2 separate regions of the Homo sapiens genome follow, and region 2 is linked to region 1. The links come from fine-mapping of genetic effects on plasma protein levels. Region 1 holds a variant in brackets. A gene starts in the other region. All regions are shown on their reverse strands.

Region 1 (2,500 bases):
TGCTCACTGCTCAGTCCACACTTGCTGCCTACCTTCCTGATACTGCCGCCAGATTTCTTCACCATCAGTTCATCAACCATGGACTGCAAGCAGATGCTCATCATGATAGCCTGAGGGCAAGAAGAGTGTCCAGCTTGATGAGAGTGGTCACTCTGAGCCCAGCACCACTAATGCCTCCCATATTGAGTACTGGAAACTCTACACTTTAAGGTGCTCCAGAGGAGGGCTGAGGGTAGGTTCACACCTGGGGGCTAGTGATGGTGACCCACTGTAGCCGGTCCTTGCTCATGAGGTATTCAAAAGCCAGTTCCAGGCGCACCTCACCCCGGCCCCGGCCTGGGCTGCTCGTGCTTCCACTGGGCAATGGTACCTGGGAGAGGAAGGGGAATTCGGTTGAGTTCACTCTGACCAACCTGTCTGGCTCCCTGACCCGCTGCAGCCCATACCTAAGCTCAAGGCTTGCCGGGCCCCCAACCCAGGCCCTTCCCCCTCCTAACCCGACTCACAGAGGAGGTGACCCGCCAGCATCGCATGCGGGTGACCCGGAAGGAGCCTTCTCGGAGTTGCTGGCCAGGCAGGCGGAGCTGCAGGCTGAGCTCACTGTTGCCCGCGCTCACCACCACAGGACAGTCCTTTTCTGGGAAGTCAGCCACACAGGCATCAAAGCGCAAGTAGCCATAGTGCCGCAGCGTCTGGGCCAGTCTCAGGAACTGAAAAATGGTCATCACATGGGGGTAGATTAGGAGGGAGAATGGGGCAGCTCAGAAAAAGCAACCCCGGTCGGGCGCGGTGGCTCATGCCTATAATCCCAGCACTTTAGGAGGCAGAGGCAGACAGATCACAAGGTCAGGAGCTCAAGACCATCCTGGCTAACATGGTGAAACCCTGTCTCTCCCAAAAATACAAAAAATTAGCCGGGCGTCGTGGCGGGTGCCTGTAGTCCCAGCTACTCGGGAGGCTGAGGCGGGAGAATGGCATGAATCTG[A/G]GAGGCAGAGCTTGCAGTGAGCCAAGATCGCGCCACTGCAAGCCCTTAGAGGAAGACAGAGAGGAGGCAGGGCTCACCTCCTTCTTGGAGACTTTCTCTTGCAGAGATTTGAGTTGCCGGTGCTGTTCCTTGGTGACCAAGATCCACCCACGCTCAATATCTGATACCGTCTATAGTAGAGACAAGGGGCAGGCAGTAGGAGGTCCCAGTCAGCAATCCAAGGAAAGCGTCTACCATTACCTCTGTCCAGCCTGACCCCTAGCCCCACACTTGAGCGACCTCTCTGCAGTAAGTCCTTGATCTTGTCAGCTTAATAAAAGTAGGGAGAGTAGATATTGTGCCAGCAGCACTGATAGTATTCTAGGAACTTCCCCACAAATTGGGAACAAAGACACGACAGCAGTTTTCTTGGGAGAGTGAGTCACCCGTTATTTTCTTCAGGGGAAGGGTTCTGAGGCAGCTCCAAGCTCACCTGAGCATAAAGCAGGTTCAGGCCAACCCGGTTCTCCATGACATCGTCATCATAGGCAGAGTCCCAATAACTGTGAGGCCAAGGGGTGGAAAGGGGTAATGGGGCTAAGCTGGGTTAAGGCAAGAGGTAGAATGGAAAATGGGCAAAACAGGAGCAATCTGGAACTATCAGGGGCTAATGGTATAGTGGGAGGAAGCTTGGGAGGCCTGGCAGAAACACCCAGCACTACACCCCCTTGTCCAGATTATTCTGTCTCAATATGTGGCCCAATAATCCAATCCAGCACAGCACCTCCCACCCCTCCCCTTCCAGGCCCAGCCCTGACCTCTTCCTTAGCACAATCTTATACTCTTGACTCCGAAGGCTGGTGACAGACACATAAGGCAGCTCAAACTCTTGCAACTTCCGTACAACTACAGGTTAAAAAAAAAAAAATGAAAATATAGTGAGATTTAAAGGAAGGGAAATCAAGAAAGAAGTGCCCTGAGGCAATGTTCATTCTGGGGGTGGGGGTGGGGAGTTAGGGGGGCTGCAAACTCTACTGAAGTACCCTTGTACTGCAGTCAAGTCCAGAGAAACTCACAAGAAAAGGCTCCATCCTCTTTTTCTCGAACTAAGAATAGACTAAAGTATCCAATCAAGTCATCTGGAAGATCCAGCTTTGCAGCTACAGCCTGGGGATAGGGATAGAAGTACAGCTCATCATACTGGCTGGTTCCAATCATTCTCCAAGCCCAGGACCCCAGGATGTAGGGGAAGAAGGGGCAGTGCTGAACAAGCGCCTCACCTCCAGGACATCCTCAGTCTGATCTGAAGTTAGCACGTTGACCAGAACTTTCTGCCCGTTGCTGAGCAGCACTTCCAAGGACACTTCCTCTGTGGGGACCTGCTGTGTCTCCTGTTGTGAGCACACATGGGGATGGGAAGCACTGCCTTGTCCCTTGCCTTGACCTATGCCCAACTCTATTTCTAGGTCCCTTGTGTGTCTTTATTCTCAGCTGCTTAAATATAGGCTGTGATTTCTTTGATTTCATAAGAATAGA
Region 2 (3,015 bases), not on the chromosome of region 1:
TTCCATGGTACAGGCCGGGCGAAGGACCCTTTAAAGGGGAATGCGGAGACTGCCGGCGGCTTTGGCTCCGCGACGGGGCCCCCGAATGATGCTGCAGAATCCGCCACGGCCGCTGGGTGCCGGTGGCGCGGGCAGGTGGCGCGGCACGTCCCACCTGGGGAGTAGCCGAGGCCGCCCCAGGGGGAGACAGTGAGGGCCGAGGCGACCGAGGGCACTATCTGCGCTGCTCACCCGGGCTCCGGCGCCTCACGCCCGCCGGCGGCGCCTGGGTCCAGGCTCCTGCTACCGCCGGGGACTGAGCGCGTAGAGCGCGAGCGAAGCAGCCAGCGAGGCTCCTGCTCCAACCCAATTCCGGGAGCCGCCGCCGCCGCCTCTGCTACTGCTGGCGAAGTGACGTGAGGGCTGACGCAGAGCAGGGGCAGAAACTCCAGAAAATTAGTCTGAAATCCAAAAACACACACACGCTCATACACACACAAACCCATAACACCCTCCAGACAAAAGCACCAGGGAGGGGAGGGGAATCTGGGGGCGAGCAGGGAGGAGGGAGGCATCGGTGCCACTGGCCAGAAGCAGACAGCAGCAGCATGTGGGAGTTCACACACGCGCGCACACACGCACACATCCTGGCCGTGTAGACATGCACGCGCGTGCGTGTGTGTGTCTGTGTGTGTGTGTGCATTTACATCCAGGTACCTCTAAGATGAACCGTTCCTCCGTTCGACGCCTCCCGGTCCCTAATTCACACCACAGTCTCTTCTACAATCGCGGTAGAGGCTGTCTCCCTTTTTGAAATGGAAACCGTGCTTGGTTCAGCTCTGAAAAATGCGCTGATTCTTATTATAGGAATCCTCCCTCCCTTCTCCCTCCCCGCGTTCTCCTTTCCCACCCTGCCTAAAAGGGAGGGCAAGCTATCCTAAAAATAAATAAATGTTGTAAACACCAAAACGTGTTCTGCATTGGTAACCAAGGATCACCGCCCCCATTCCGGGCCACCTATTTGGGGATCGGTGGTTTTGGAGGGGCTTCCTGTTGGTGCTTTTGCAGAGGGAAGGGAGTCTCCAAACACAATTCTAGCTCTCTAAGTGGGTCTTTTTCCTGCCGTTTTCTGCCATCACACGCCCGGGAAATAGAGACATGTGAGGGGAAGGGAGCGCGCCTGATGCGTATTCTAAATGCTCGGTGGCCACCCTGGCCTGTCCGATGTGTGGCGCCGCGTCATTTTCTCTCATCCTTTAACCTGACGGGATGTAGCCATTCCCAGATCGTGGATTCACTCCCCGCGATGCCCACCCCCACGTAGGGCATCCCAAGCCCTTGCTCCCCTGCCGTACCTTGCGCGTGTTCATGTGTGCTAGGGTGTGCGCGAACGCGTGCCCTGCGCCCGCGCTGCCCGGAGCACGATATGCATCCAGCTACGAAGAAGCCAGGCGCGGGCAGAGCCTCGGGGTCTCACTAGGGACAAATTAGGCGATCCGGGAGGGTCGGGTGACAAACCGTAACTATTCTGCGGGTGCAGTTAAATGATGGCTGCGGGGCATTTGCAAGCCTTGTCTGAGAATCCGTCTTCCCTTTTGCGGCTCGGAATCTGTTTTTCCGCAGTCATTTAAAAGAGAACGGGGAAAATACACCGCAGTGCCTGACACTTCCGAGGGCTCTGGTGCCCCCGCGCGGGGAGAGAGCGCCCGGCACGCTCCGGAGCACCAGCCCATGGCCCGGGTCGCGGCGGGCACAGCGCTGGGGGCGCGCTCTGGCGCCAGATGCGCAACCAGCGGCGCCCGACGCCTGCGCGTCCCTGCCCGGCCGGTGCGCGGCTCTCCTGGCCTCGCCGAGCTCCTGCCCGGGGGAAAAAGGCGGGCAATCCTTCTCTCTCGAGAGAGCAATGGGTTGGAGTCTCGTTCAAAATATAGTAATAGTCACTGATCTACCCGCAGAGTTTGGGGATGGGAAGGATCAAGAAACCGAACGTTAGAGTGAATGCTCGGATCTAGGCCAAGCGTTAAATATTACGAAGGGAACGTAAAACATCTATTGGGGCTTTTTTGTACAGATCCTGGGCGCTGAGTGTAACCGCGGGAATTCTTGGACAGCACCCAAAAATCTTGCTGCAGGTCCCGAAAGCAAGGCCAGCAGGTCTATCTCACCACTGTCACTCGGCTGTAACACACATCGAGTGGTGAACGGCCAGGCTGAAGTTTACTCCTGAGCTGCGCCTCTATTCTCTACTAGGTGAGGACGCGCCAAGGAAGAGACGCCAAGGGCAAAAATGACCTGGTCTCAGACGCACGTAAAACTCCGCCTGTCTTGTCAGTGAACCTTAAGCGGAGAAGCCCCTGAGGAACACTTGGGGAAGGAAGGAGTGTGTGCGTAATCACCCACATTTCTCTCACACTCCCATACTCTGAGCCCATTTTTCTAAGAAACGGCCCATTTTCGCCCTAGTGGCTGCAGCATGTCAATGCGGTATGGAGAATAGGCAGTCTTACGGTGGTTTGTACACCAGAAGAGTCTAATTATGTTGGAATATTTGTAGAGTTTCTATTAGAGTAAATATATGCTACTATTATAGTTGGATTCTAAATATATTCCACTATCTCCCACTTAAAATTAGGATTTGCGGTCCTACTTCTAATCACCCTACTTCTGCTCTACTATTTCAACCATAGCAGTTTGTCCTTTGGACAGATAATTTACTTATTATATATATTTTTAAAATTTCTCCCAGAAGAATGTACACTCCATGAAGGCAGGGATTTTTATCTATTTTATTCATTGATATCTCTCAAGGACATAGTAGGTGTTAAAATATATGTGTATTTTTAATGAATAAATAAAATAAAATAAAGGAGATCTCACTTTCTTAACCTCTAAGTCTGCAAGAACCTGGATAATTCCCCCAGACACGCTCCTTCTCACCTTCACAATTTCAAATCTTCCTTGCGTTCTGAGTGCTCCTAGCACTGCTTAAAACCTTGCCTTACTTTCTGTCTCATTTAGTAGCCAGATAGGCTTCAG

Alleles and levels. Alleles are on the strand shown, and positions count from the first base shown. The strength of an association depends on the size of the effect and on how common the allele is.
In carriers of allele G in region 1, the plasma level of the protein whose gene starts at base 391 in region 2 tends to be higher than with A alone (weak association).

What was found. PIP is the posterior inclusion probability: the model's chance that the variant is causal. Protein levels are from antibody-based Olink assays in UK Biobank. Linkage for the fine-mapping came from a reference panel and not from the study's own genotypes, which makes the PIPs less certain.
Region 2: NTRK2 starts here. The variant in region 1 is fine-mapped to the plasma level of the NTRK2 protein (UK Biobank, PIP 0.94).

Annotation. Positions count from the first base shown.
Region 1 is chr2:27,373,716-27,376,215 of GRCh38, reverse strand. It overlaps SNX17 (sorting nexin 17), which reads right to left. Exons shown (of 15, transcript NM_014748.4): 5 at 2,245-2,355; 6 at 2,041-2,131; 7 at 1,783-1,870; 8 at 1,458-1,527; 9 at 1,063-1,155; 10 at 507-710; 11 at 245-370; 12 at 33-110. Among named protein-coding and RNA genes, the nearest start is that of SNX17, 4.4 kb to the right of the region's middle. The variant A/G (reference allele first, on the strand shown) is at 986.
Region 2 is chr9:84,667,105-84,670,119 of GRCh38, reverse strand. NTRK2 (neurotrophic receptor tyrosine kinase 2) reads right to left here and starts at 391. Exons shown (of 19, transcript NM_006180.6): 1 at 232-391. RefSeq lists a silencer at 1,647-1,866.